4 linked regions of the Homo sapiens genome follow. The protein of the gene in region 1 interacts with the protein of each later gene in a pairwise test. Each region holds a gene or a part of one and is shown in the gene's direction. Other genes may lie near its edges.

Region 1 (3,500 bases):
GGAGGTCTCTGCTCCAAAATTCCGTCATTCCCTTCTCACCTCCCTCAGACCTCCTCCAAAGCTGATTTGCAGACTAAGCCAGTAATACATATCTCACAAGGTGTGGAGCTCTGCAGGACATTCAAGCTAAAAGATGCAAAGAAAATTTTTAAGCAAAAAGGAGTTCATTTATTTGGGGTTTCACAAAACCTCATTAGGCTCTCTACTGTCTATCTAAATACTTCCATCCATTTCCTCCTATCCTGTCCATAACTGAAGGTGGAGCCCACTGTTACTTAACGGTATTTGTGTTAAGGACACTGAGCAATGCCGTATTAGTTGTATAATGACTTCACTACCTGCTGGGTTTGAATCCCAGGCTCGTCATTTGCTGGCTGCAGTGCAGCTCTTTCAGACTTGTAATTTTAAGGTAGTAGCACATGGTAAACACTCAAAAAATGTTATTTCTTATCCTTCTATCTATTTTGGAGGTTTGGTATAGCATAGTAGGAAGATGAGGGACTTTGAAGTGAGACGTGGGTTTGAATTAAATCTTTATGGCCTTGGGCAAATCAGTGAGACACGGTAGTCTCTGTTTAATATGTACATGTACTTGTTCCGAGAATTCAATGAATAATGTATGTAAAGTGTTCAGATCCTAGCCATCAATATTTATTGGATGTCTTTAAATCACCTAGTGCATTATGAGAGCTCAGTTAGTGGCAGCTATTAACAATTTGGGTTTGCCTGTTGCCTTTTCTAGGGTTTGGGTGTTTTATTCGTTGTATTTTGAATGAATCTTAATGTAGCATGCCATACTGAATGTGCATCATGTATACACATATCTTAATATCAAATCAGAAGTTTTCGTTTCACACTCAGCTTATTTTAGGAAACATATATTGCTCTGTTCATAGTGAATCTGATTGATTAATTGAATGTTTTATTCCCTGCATATGCTTTTATGTCTTCAGTACCAACCCTCTTGAGGAAGAAGTGCAAGAATTTTCTCTTATAATCCTCTCATTTGTGATTATTCTTGTCTTGGTAATTTTTGACACTATCCACAGTATAGTTACATGTTACATGCCTTGTGTTTTTTAAACCTTAAAGTTGCATATGCATTGCTGTAACTCAAGCATGCTTTCATTGCTTTGTTCCCTAGTTCAAACTATGTTTTAACTGATGAGCAATCACTTTGGATTGAAGATACTACAAAATCAGTTTATCAAGTAAGTTCAACACGCAACAAACCCATGATTGAAAAAATGGAAATTTAGGATTTTCTTTGTTTCAGCCCCAAATAGGAAAATAAGGATAAAGTTAAGCTCAGGTACAAGACCACAAACACTCCTTGGTTCTCTGCCTACAAACCACTCCTATGATGCAGAAAGTTGTTGAAAGCTTAGTATATTCTTTCTAATCACAGCTACTATCTGAAAACCCCCCCGATGGAGAAAGATTTTCAAAGATGGTAGAGGTATGTGTTTTTTATGCTTACATCCTCTTCTTAGCACGAAATAGAACTTCAGAGGATTCCACTAACCAAAATGTAATCGCTTTGTTTTTCCCAGCATATATTAAACACTGAAGAAAACTGGAACTCGTGGAAAAATGAAGGTTGCCCAAGTTTTGTGAAAGAAAGGTAAATACATACTGAAAGAAAGGTAAATACATACTCATCACAAGAACGACGAGAAAGGCTTTTGAAAATGTGCTCCGATATGATTATAGCATGTAAAAATACATGTATATATTTCACATAAAAAATGTAAGTTGAACTTTGTAAGAGTACAACCACTTTGATTTACCTCTGTATTTTTTAAACCTCATAAATTTCTTGTCATTAAATTCCTGGAACAAACATCTTATTATTGAGAAGAATACTGTATATCTACTCCGTGTAATTTGCCATATAATGTGGCATTTTTATCTTATATCTGATAATTGTTCTATCATAATATGAAGTTTTCATTTTTTTTTTTTTTTTGAGAGGGAGTCTCACTCTGTCACCCAGGCTGGAGTGCAGTGGCATGATCTTGGCTCACCGCAGCCTCCGCCTCTTGGGTTCAAGCGATTCTCATGCCTCAGCCTCCTGAGTTGCTGGGATTACAGGCGCCTACCACCATGCCTGGCTAATTTTTGTATTTTTAGTAGAGACAGGCTTTCACCATGTTGGCCAGGCTGGTCTCAAACTCCTGACCTCAGGTGATCCACCTACCTCAGCCTCCCAAAGTGCTGGGATTACAGGCATGAGCCACCATGCCCAGCCAGTTTTCATCTTTTTTAAGAGGAAAACAATAACTAAATTTTCTTTTACGTTAAACATTCTTCTATTTCTGTTATCCATTTGTAATTCAAAAAATAGTGTATGTTTTGTTCACGACAGAACATCAGATACCAAACCTACGAGAATAATTCGGAAGAGAACAGCACCCGAGGACTTCCTAGGGAAAGGACCCACCAAAAAAATTCTGATGGGAAAGTAGGTGAATTTGTCTTCATGTGGGATGTTCTTAGTTATTTTTATATTTTGAAGATGTTACTTTAAGAACTCTCCATCCAAAATATAGTATGAGATTGTGTTTGGTACACACATAGATAGCCAAAGCAAACCGCACTGTCTATACTGCCCATTGTGTGGGTTCATGCACCAGATAAACCTTCATTTTGTCTCCAGCTTCCAAAATCTGTGTCTCTAGGCTGTGCCATTTTTTCCGTTTCAGACAGTAGAATTGTTTAGATTCCAGTTGTTGCAAGGTACCATAATCCTTGAGTTCTCTTACCTTCCAGTTAACTATTCATTGCTTTATATTGTGCTGGAATATTTTTAGAAAAAACTAAAGATTATATCATTATCATTAGTCATGATTAATGATTATATGCTCATATAGAGAATAATTTTAGGTATTTTAAATACCAAAAATTATTGAGAAAAGTAAAACTCATACTGTCAACATCCCCAAATCCACTGTTTACATTGTATTGTTTTTCTGTTCAGTTTCAAGGCACATGAGGATGGTGTCCATAAAAAATGTATTTATTTCTGTGTCTATTTTGTAGTGAGGAGTTAACAAGGCTTTGGAATCTTTGCCCTGATAATATGGAAGCCTGTAAATCAGAGACAAGGCAAGTTGAACATTTTTCAAATGAAGTGTTGCTTTTGTCAAGTGTTGAGTAGAATGGAGCCTTTTCTCAGCTATGATCAGAGCTCAAATGAAATTTAAAAGTTTATTGTGGTTGACTTTTGGCACAGCAGCGTGTAACTTCCCACCATAAAACTCCTCAAAGTGCTGATAAAATAATTTTAGAAATCACAAAAAAATAAAGATTCACAAAAGGAATCAAAACTACAAACAGAAGAGTAAGCCTATGAACTGATACGGTTCTAGGGCAGCAGTACTAATGATTGCCAGCTTTGAGAACCAGGGAACTTGGGTTTTAATAGTCACAAAAGTTCGTTGAACTTGCAAAATGGGCAAGTTTAATAGCAGTCTAGACATAGGTAAAGTAAGAATTAA
Region 2 (3,632 bases), on another chromosome or scaffold:
CCTGTCTCCCTGGTTTCCTAACCTAGCTGTGGACACAGTAGTATTATAGTTAGGTCTTGAGAACTCCCAGGACTCCAGTAGACTTGTGTGGGTTCTCAGTGGGGTTGACCCCATTCCTCTGAGGTCAAAATAGGCCCTTCATGAAGGCTTCCTGAGGGTCTTTCAAGTTCCCATCCCCATTCGGACCATGCTATGGGGAATCTTCTTTGAGATGGGGTGAATGTGGGAAGGCTGGAGGCAGTCCTTTTCCTACCCTTGTGGGTGAATAAGTCCAGGTGTGCCATCTACTTCACTTGAAGGGCTGACTCAGGTGAAATCCCAGCTGGGCGGCTCTCAGCCTCCCTTTTTCTGTACCCCGTGGAATCCACACAGAGCCTGGCCTCTCCAATTGCTGTGCTTTGGGGGCTCTTTCCACCTGCCTGACCCTCTAGACCCCCAAAGCCACCACAGCCTCTGTGGCAATGGGACAGACACATGGTGGCTGTGGAGTTTCCATGTCTGTGTCTTTGCTGACTTGGGAGTTCCTCCTGCACACCATCCCAGCCGCCCTCTGCATTCCGCCACCCTAAGGCTGGAGGCTTCACCATGTGGCAAGAGACCAGAAAATTTAAAATACCATGCCCAGTGCACATTGCATCACTCAGGGACCCTGCTGGAGGGAGAGTCTGTTATCTTTTGAGCATACAGTAGGTATTCAAAAAGTACAACACTTGGTGAATGAGAAGATTGGCATTAGTGATGGAACTGCTCACACTATGAGCTTTGTATTGCCCAAACGTTTAGGTTCTTGGTGCTCTATTCGTGAGTCAGTGTTGGTTTTAGAACGCAAACACTTGAGGAGCAGAGATTGTGTTCTTTTAGAGTAAGCCCTGCCTCTGCCCTGGGACTCCAGCTTAGAACATGCCTGAAGCATATTAATTGATGGGTGTATCATTTCCTGAGGCTCTCTCTGGTTGACCAAGCTTGGTGATGTTGGATAAGGCTCCATTCAAAGGATAAATGCCTAGATAGTCCAGGAAGGCCACCATGGTGCAGGCAAAGCAGGGAGGCCCCCCAGAGGCTGTGAGCTTAGGAGTGCTGACAGCCCTTTCTCACCCCACAGGGCTGGGGCTCTGTGCCGCTACTGCAAGTGTCTGTCAACATGGCCACAAGGCTGGGAGTACTGGACCCAGACAGGGCACAAATGGGAATACCAGAAACACATGGTTCCCACTCTCAACACCTTTCTTCTAGTCCAGCTGCAAAATGCAATTCACATTTACAAAACCCATGTAAAGACACTTAGAAAGTAGCCTGTTAACCAGTGGGGAGAAAATGCAAAAGGAGACAACCAGAGAGATGTGCGAGGAGGTGAGGGAATGTGAGGGAGCGATGATAGTGATGAGAAATCCACACTCCTGACTTTCAGACTCTCCTCCTCCGAAATCTTTGCTGGAGCTTAAATGGTGCAAAGCCCGTGAGCATCTGTGCCTATCATGGAAACAGTTAGCATGTGTCAGCACCTGTTAAATCCCTGAGCACTTTGTATCATTAATTCTTACAGCTATACTATGAGGTAGGTATCACTGCCCCTAGTTCACAAATGAGGAAAATGGGGCTCTGAGAGCCTAAACAGCTTGCCTCAGTCATATAGCTAGTGAGTGGCAGAAATGCAATCTGAGTCTTCAGTTCTGTGCCTCTAAGAGCCACTTGGTTTCCACTCACATTGCCAAAAGTAACTTCGTGGAGGGTAGGATGTTCTACAGAATCTAAGTCGTGGGGTCTCGTGCTGACTGTTGCTCTGTTTGCTGCTTCAGGTAATTTGTTCTTGGTGAGTCTGGCATTGGCTGACCTGGTGGTGGCCTTCTACCCCTACCCGCTAATCCTCGTGGCCATCTTCTATGACGGCTGGGCCCTGGGGGAGGAGCACTGCAAGGCCAGCGCCTTTGTGATGGGCCTGAGCGTCATCGGCTCTGTCTTCAATATCACTGCCATCGCCATTAACCGCTACTGCTACATCTGCCACAGCATGGCCTACCACCGAATCTACCGGCGCTGGCACACCCCTCTGCACATCTGCCTCATCTGGCTCCTCACCGTGGTGGCCTTGCTGCCCAACTTCTTTGTGGGGTCCCTGGAGTACGACCCACGCATCTATTCCTGCACCTTCATCCAGACCGCCAGCACCCAGTACACGGCGGCAGTGGTGGTCATCCACTTCCTCCTCCCTATCGCTGTCGTGTCCTTCTGCTACCTGCGCATCTGGGTGCTGGTGCTTCAGGCCCGCAGGAAAGCCAAGCCAGAGAGCAGGCTGTGCCTGAAGCCCAGCGACTTGCGGAGCTTTCTAACCATGTTTGTGGTGTTTGTGATCTTTGCCATCTGCTGGGCTCCACTTAACTGCATCGGCCTCGCTGTGGCCATCAACCCCCAAGAAATGGCTCCCCAGATCCCTGAGGGGCTATTTGTCACTAGCTACTTACTGGCTTATTTCAACAGCTGCCTGAATGCCATTGTCTATGGGCTCTTGAACCAAAACTTCCGCAGGGAATACAAGAGGATCCTCTTGGCCCTTTGGAACCCACGGCACTGCATTCAAGATGCTTCCAAGGGCAGCCACGCGGAGGGGCTGCAGAGCCCAGCTCCACCCATCATTGGTGTGCAGCACCAGGCAGATGCTCTCTAGCCTGGATCTGAGGCACACCAGCAGCATGACAAACTCATGAAATGGTGGGAGAGAGTCTGCTGCAAGGGTGAGACCAGGCAGCCTGCTGGGCCACACTGTCCTGTTGGCATCACAGCCCCAAGGCTGGGGGAACTTCATGCTGGGACAAGCAGCCCATCAACGCCATGGGTTCAGGCTGATCCAGGAGATGCTCACAGGCCACAGGACCTGGAAAACACTCTTGGTGGTGTCTTGGGGATTTGGTGCACACAAGACCAAGGAAAGGACAGAATGAGGAAAGGCCTGGGGCAGAAGAGCCCAACTCCTTCTCATAGCTGACCCTCATCCTCCTGCCTTGGCCTCCTGGCTGCTTTCTCCCCTTCCCCCCAGCGTGGCAGGATCTCTTCCTGTTAGCAAGGATGAAAGAGAGAGGTCAGTAGGACTGGAACTTGGTAACTGCAAGGGCCTCAGGTGGGGCAGGTGCAGAGGGCAAGCATTCCACACTCCGCCATTGACCTTCCCTACACACACACAATCACAACCACACATGCATCACACCACAGACACACCACACTATGCACACATACACTGTGTACACATACATATGTTACACACACATAGCCACCACATCACAAACACACTGCACCCCCCCCCCCCACACACACACACACAGTCACACTGCTCCAGCATCTGGAGCACAAAGTCCGCTTGGCCTCCTTTTCTGGTTCCATCATGTTCAGGTTGTGTGACTTGGGGAAAGTCTCCTAACCTCCCTGTTCCTCAGTTTACTCATCTTAAAGTGAAGATCATGCCGTAGTCAGCCTCCCAGGTTGTTGTGAGGATTCTCTGGGATAACACATCTGCAGAGCTGAGGACAGTGCCTGACATGTGGCTAGCAGGCAGTAATCATTAGCTTTTGTTATTATTATAACTACATAAAATGAAGGAGAAAAGTCATATACAAAGAAAGGAAGGGCTATCACCGGATGCG
Region 3 (3,500 bases), on another chromosome or scaffold:
CTCTGGGCTAAGCCCTGGGGTTACAGGCAGCAAAGACACACCTATGAATTAGCATTGATCTGCAAACCACAGAGGGTACCATGGAATTGTCATGATTCAGTAGCCCCTCACCTCCTTCAACCCTTGACTGACTATACCGTCTACAATGTGCTGAGAATACAGTGGGGAACAATACCAAAAGGGTACTTTCATTCAGGAAACTTCCAGTCTAACAAGTCAAACTCCCCATCGCTTGGAAGGGAGAGTAAAAAAATATATATATATTCAGAAGAAAAAAGCACATGCATGCATTAGGCAGGGTGCAAGGCTGGGAGAAAAGGAGGAGTTGAGGAGCGCAGCTGGAATCTGGGATCTGCCTCGAGGAAGTGCGCGAATAGTGGTCCCCTCTCCTCCCAGAACAGTGGAGAGGCGCCAAGACCATCCCTACCTGGTGCCATCAAAGAGAGAGGACTGTTACGACCTCCTGCGAGTCCTGACAGGGAAAGGCCCTCTTTTGGGGTCAACTGTGGGGACGGCGCAATGCCAACCTGAGCCACCATTTGAAATGAGAAAAAGCGGCGTGGCAGAAAGAAATGAGTCTGGTACAGACCAGTGGTTGGTTTCCTAGGGTTAGAGGTCTAGGTCTACCTTCTGTTAGAAGAGGGGCAGTGGTGAGGCCTTGATGGGAGCCCCCTGCCCCAGAATTCACTTAAGAGCAGGTGTACCTTCCTCCCCTGCGTGGCTCCATGAAGCTGGGAAAGAAACGCACAAGAGGACCACCCTAGAGGCCCAGGCTTGTTTGGCCTGAAATCGCCTCACCCCTCCCAGACTGCACTGCTGACACCCCCTCTCCCATTAGCTTCCAGGAAGGAGAGTGAGAGGGCTGGGGAGAGGGAAGGGGCAGACACCCAGCAGTCCCTGGTTGGGGAGTTGGGGCGGGGGTGCAGACACACCAAGGGGCGGTTTGGTATCCATCCGCTGCTCCCTCCAGCGCGGCTCTTCCCAACCTCCTGATCCTGTCCCCTGCCTGGGTCCCCAGCCGCCCGCCCGTCCCTATATTATAGCAACGCCAGAAATGTGGTGGTGGTGGTCGCCACGTTAGGGTCCGCGGGGGTCCTCCTGAGGCAGCCTGGTGCCAACCCGCAGGCCCAGGCTGGGGCTCGTCATGGCCCCGCCCACCTCTGGGTCGGAACTAAGGTGGGCCTGAGAGGGGGGCGTCGAGCACTTTCGCGCCGTATCCCTCCGCCCCCCTTCCCGACACCCTCGCGGAGAGAGCGGTTCTTGCAGCATCCTGCGCAGCCCCTGCCCAGTTTGGTGCAGAGGCGTGGGGGGCGGGACGCGTCTTTGCCATTCTGATAGCGGGGAAAGCGGTGAGAATCGAAGTGAGGAGCCGCCAGAGGAGAGCTGAGGAGAGGAGGGGGAGGTCGACGACCTGGGCCCTGGGCCTCTGAAGGCAAGTGGGGGTGCGTGAGCTTGGGGTGGTCCGCCAGGGTGGACCGGCTGGCAGCCTGCCCCGCCGACCCTGACATCCTGGCAAGGAGGAGACGATCCGGTCGGAGCCGGTCGCCGGAGAGAGGTGCGCAGTGCTCGAGACCCCTGGCGATGGGGAGGCGGTGACCGGTGCAGGCCGAGCCAGGCCAAGGGCTGAGGGGCTGGCTTGAGAGGCACCGTCAGATCGTCTGGAGGAGAACCGCGCTGACCGCCTCCAAGCCAGCTTTGCAGGCGCCGGCGCCCCGCCCTCGACGGTGTCTGTGCCCGGAAAGGGCTGTGGGGGAGCTCCTGCGGGAGAAATGGCGGAGCGGGAGCCATTGTGGGGGGCTCCCGGGAAGGCCGGGGGGAGCCGGCGTCCCAGCTCTGTGCCCAGCCCACGAGAGGTGGGCCGCGTTCGCTACTCGGGGCCCTGATTCCGGAAAGGGGCCTGTGGGACCCCGTGTCTTGGGTGCTGTCCCTTCCCACAGGCTCCAGGTGGTTGTTAAAGTCTCCTGTCTGCGTGATAGGTCTGTTGGGTTCTCCAAAAGTGGAACTTTGAGTGGGTGAATTATGAAGACACTAAAATGAAATGTTTAACCGCCTTTTATAATACCGCACTGTTTTATTGCCTTACATATTTAGATCCCCACATCCAGTTTTGTGCAAGCAAATAGGGTGTGGACTTAGTCGAATTTCACAACAGTGGTCCATGTAAATAACAGGGTAGTATTTTTCCACCTTTCTTGTTCAGGATCTGTTTTCTCAACATGCTGATCCACTTTAAGTAATGTAATGATGTGTGAGAATGTGGGTTCCGAGTAGAGGGGTAATCTTTTTGAAGGGTCAATTTAGAACATTTGAAGTCAATCTGCTTCTTCAGTTTATGGTTCTGGAAACCAAAACTCCATCTCCAGCCACTCCTCACAGACCCTCTCATTTTGGTGCAGAAATAGTCCCACAGAAGAATTCATGGCATTTCTGATGGTGGATATCTGAGGAGCTATGAGAGTTGGGAGACTTTATTTACTTAGTTTCTGATTCTCAAAAAGGAGGTGTTAGAATCCGAATTCTGGGAATCTGTCCATTAACCTGCTATTTTTCTACCATTGTTAACATAGTCTCTTGGGGTTATTTTTTGCTAGTTGCTCCGCCTTCTTTTTGTAGGGCGTGACTCTTCTTTGGTGGGAAGGATAGCATCTCCTGAGAACTCCTGCTGTATAAGCAGGCTGACATAGGTGGTGAATAAAGTAGGATCTAGGTATGCATGGGGAAGGGGAAGGACATGCACAGATGGTATTAAAATAACAGTCTCCATTATGTTCCCTGCCTGCCTTGTAAGTACAATTGCCTATGTTCCACTACCTATTTCTGCACCTCATTTTTTTTGGTTCAGGAAAGGAGCTGTAACTTCTATTGGGAAAATGACTGACTTCAAAGTTGGCAGGAGGTGTAATCAGGCTGCAGGTCTTGGGGTGATTAGGGAATCATTGAGGAAGAGCAGACAGGTGGGAGACATTTAACATAGCCTTGAATATTCAAAAGCATATGTTATAATCCTTGTTATAGGCATTAGATCATCTTAGTCTCTTCTGTTTTCTTTCCTCTGCCTTCCTTTCTATCCTTAGGTCTGTTTCTTTCTAGGTTCCTGTAGAGATCTGTATGTAGCTGTTCACTTGGAAGTTAATTAAGAAAGAACAAAAACTATTCATTTGGATTCAAGGTAGGTTTATGTGTGAGCACCCCCGTTGATTGGGGTTATGGAAAGGCTGTTGCCAAGTGGGTTAGACCAGATCATATCTTGGTGCCACTGTCTTCCATCTTTCTAGTCACCTCTGACCTCACATTTGTGTACAAGTGATGGGGTGGGGTGAGCCAGGATTATGCCTATGAGGTAATTGGTAGATATTGGGGCAGGAAATGGGAAGATAAGCCACAAGGAGTACTAGGAGGCCAGAAGTGTTATATAACCAAAGCCCTAGATTTGGAAAGGCAGAAATTGGGTTTAGAGATTAGAGTGTAGGTCTGTCAACCAAATACTCAGAACTCCAATC
Region 4 (2,498 bases), on another chromosome or scaffold:
CCCACGTGCTCTTCTCCCTAGCTGAACACTACCACCATGTCCAATGCTACGGCCAATAGTAGCATTCGGCCTATCTTTGGAGGGACAGTCTACCACTCCCCCGTGTCTCGACTTCCTCCTTCTGGCAGCAAGGTTAGTATGCCCTGTGTCTAAGCACATCCTCACATGCGTCCCTAGCCTGTTCACCCAGAGGCCCCACCTACTTGTTCTAGATTCTAAGATCCCTGGATTTGGTTCTTATTGAGATGCTGAGAGTTGACAGATATAAGCTAGCTCACCATTAAATAATGGTCCAAAACTAACGTGCAAAAAAAGAGAACAGTCACTCTGAGCCCCACTGGTACCATGGGAAGCACTGGGATGTGTCTGGGAAACTGAAGATCAGGCAGGGTCGCTGTAGACTCAATTCCAAGCCCAGTCCTCAGCTGGTATGGAGATAGGTCCCCTACATGTGGGTTCTAGCCCAGTGAAACCAGATCACTAGACATGCCAGGTACTCAGTAGAGATGTGGAAAGTATGTGGCAAAACACATTCAGTCTTTCAAATATTTTATTAGACTATGCTCAAGATAGGTGTTCTGTAAATCAAGAATTCATATTTAAAAAAAATTTTTTTCTAGAGACAGTGTTTTGCTATGTTGCCCAGGCTGGTCTCGAACATGTCGCCTCAAGCAATCCTCCTGCCTTGGCCTCCCAAAGTGTTGGGATTATAGGCATGAGCCACACCCAGCCCCATATATATATATATATATATATATATATATATATATATGTTTTTTTTTTAACTAAAAAGTATAGGATTATAGACATGAATATAAAGATAGTCTCAGCCTTTGACCAGTGCAGGTATTGTGTGTGCGTGTGCACGTTCATTAGAAGGATGATACATGGATCTCTTTCCTTTCTCTGCAGCCAGTCGCTGCTTCCACCTGTTCAGGGAAGAAAACACCCCGTACTGGCAGGCATGGAGCCAACAAGGAGAACCTGGAGCTCAACGGCAGCATCCTGAGTGGTGGGTACCCTGGCTCGGCCCCCCTCCAGCGCAACTTCAGCATTAATTCTGTTGCCAGCACCTATTCTGAGTTTGCGGTAATTCACCTTTTCTAATATCTACCAGTCTCTGGGGAGCACACAGTTGGGGCAGAGTGGGTATCTTCCCAGGGGCACCCAGGCTATTAGCTAGGGCAGCTACCTTGGAGGCTGAGAATCCCTTTCCTGCTTTGACCATGGCAGGGTGGGTGTGATTTAAGGGGGGGTTGTGTAGGAAGGAAGTTGGCAGCAGCAACTAGACATTTAACCTGGATCCTTCTGCTTAATACATACCATTCCCTGGCTGCAGGAGGCAACCCCTCTATCACTGTCCTGGTGCTCTCTTGGTGGAGTTCTTGGTAATTGTCTTAATTCTTTGTTCTTAGAAGGATCCGTCCCTCTCTGACAGTTCCACTGTTGGGCTTCAGGTCTGTATGGCAATCCCTGCATGTCCCTTTTCCAAACTGATCTGTCATCTGCTGGCTTCATTCATCTGGGCACAGGGCTACACTAACTAATAATCTCAGCAGTGTTACAAAGGAAGCAGGAATTCCTATCATGGACTCAAAAAAACACATCTGATTTACATTCACAACAGATTAATTAATAAAATTTGTTCAGACTTGAATTGGATTCTCAGCCCCTAAAGTCAGGCACAGTTTTAAATCACGTTTAACAGAAAACCTTGACCCTCCCCAATTGTGACATCAAAGGCCTGCAATAGCTGGAAAGAATAGAGGCCCCCAATCACATGGGGAAGGGAGCCCCAGCTGTGTGCTGCCTACAATGAGGCTCTTGGCCTGTGTGCTGATTATTTCCTGGAGTATATGCCTTCCTAACCCCTCAGGGCTTAACCGCCAGCTCTATTCTCAGCTAGCTAATGCTGATTTCCTCACCTTTGCCTCTTTCCATACATTGAGCTACTGAAGCATAGATGAAGCACTGGAAGCAAGTTTTTCCAGAATGCTCTTCACTTCCTAGTATCCTACTCTATATTTGCTAACACCTAACTACACTGCCTTTTACTTAATCTGTGATTTCTTCTCTCAATATTTTACTAGCAAGAGGAGAGGATGTTCCTCACCCTTGAGGGGATATTGAGTTAAACCCCTAGCCTGCCTCCCCTCTTAATTGCTGCAGGGATAGAGAATGGAACAGTTGGCCAAGGCTGCAGCTAGTTTTGATCACTGAAACTGGCTTCCTACTCCAGCATGTTTTTCAAATTACGTGGCTGGTGGTGCTTCTACCTTTAAAAGTGGGTGTGTGTCACTCTGGCTGATTGCTGGACAGAGGTCCAGCTTTCTCTTTTTCGCTTGTTCAACCAAGGCCCATTTTATCTGAGGCTTAAATGTACCTGCCTATCTGTGTGGCTAGTCCTAGGTAGGTTCGTCTGGTTTGGGTTGCTATGGCTGATAGACTCCACCAGGCAGCACCAAAGCCGGTAAACTAACCTCTGCTAATATCTGTCT

The links.
Region 2: the proteins of THOC1 (region 1) and MTNR1B interact in a two-hybrid assay, tested with the Homo sapiens proteins (one large-scale study listed by BioGRID and IntAct).
Region 3: the proteins of THOC1 (region 1) and GPRASP3 interact in binary tests that used the Homo sapiens proteins (3 or more experiments, as listed by UniProt).
Region 4: the proteins of THOC1 (region 1) and PRC1 interact in a two-hybrid assay, tested with the Homo sapiens proteins (one large-scale study listed by BioGRID).

What each region holds. Positions count from the first base shown.
Region 1 is NC_000018.10:223,048-226,547, reverse strand, and holds part of THOC1 (THO complex subunit 1), read left to right. Parts: intron 1-1,144; coding exon 1,145-1,211; intron 1,212-1,408; coding exon 1,409-1,459; intron 1,460-1,553; coding exon 1,554-1,624; intron 1,625-2,347; coding exon of another isoform or gene 2,348-2,368; coding exon 2,369-2,464; intron 2,465-3,042; coding exon 3,043-3,108; intron 3,109-3,500. UniProt on the Homo sapiens protein: Component of the THO subcomplex of the TREX complex which is thought to couple mRNA transcription, processing and nuclear export, and which specifically associates with spliced mRNA and not with unspliced pre-mRNA.
Region 2 is NC_000011.10:92,979,651-92,983,282, forward strand, and holds the end of MTNR1B (melatonin receptor type 1B), read left to right. Parts: intron 1-1,796; coding exon 1,797-2,662; 3' UTR 2,663-3,132; downstream 3,133-3,632.
Region 3 is NC_000023.11:102,744,743-102,748,242, forward strand, and holds part of GPRASP3 (G protein-coupled receptor associated sorting protein 3), read left to right. Parts: intron 1-1,236; exon of another isoform or gene 1,237-1,432; intron 1,433-3,074; 5' UTR 3,075-3,169; intron 3,170-3,500. UniProt on the Homo sapiens protein: Survival and differentiation promoting protein that plays a role in the regulation of neurosynaptogenesis. Induces phosphatase PP2A activity which results in APP dephosphorylation and inhibits BACE1-mediated processing of APP.
Region 4 is NC_000015.10:90,968,038-90,970,535, reverse strand, and holds part of PRC1 (protein regulator of cytokinesis 1), read left to right. Parts: intron 1-21; coding exon 22-132; intron 133-912; coding exon 913-1,089; intron 1,090-1,415; coding exon 1,416-1,457; intron 1,458-2,498. UniProt on the Homo sapiens protein: Key regulator of cytokinesis that cross-links antiparrallel microtubules at an average distance of 35 nM. Essential for controlling the spatiotemporal formation of the midzone and successful cytokinesis.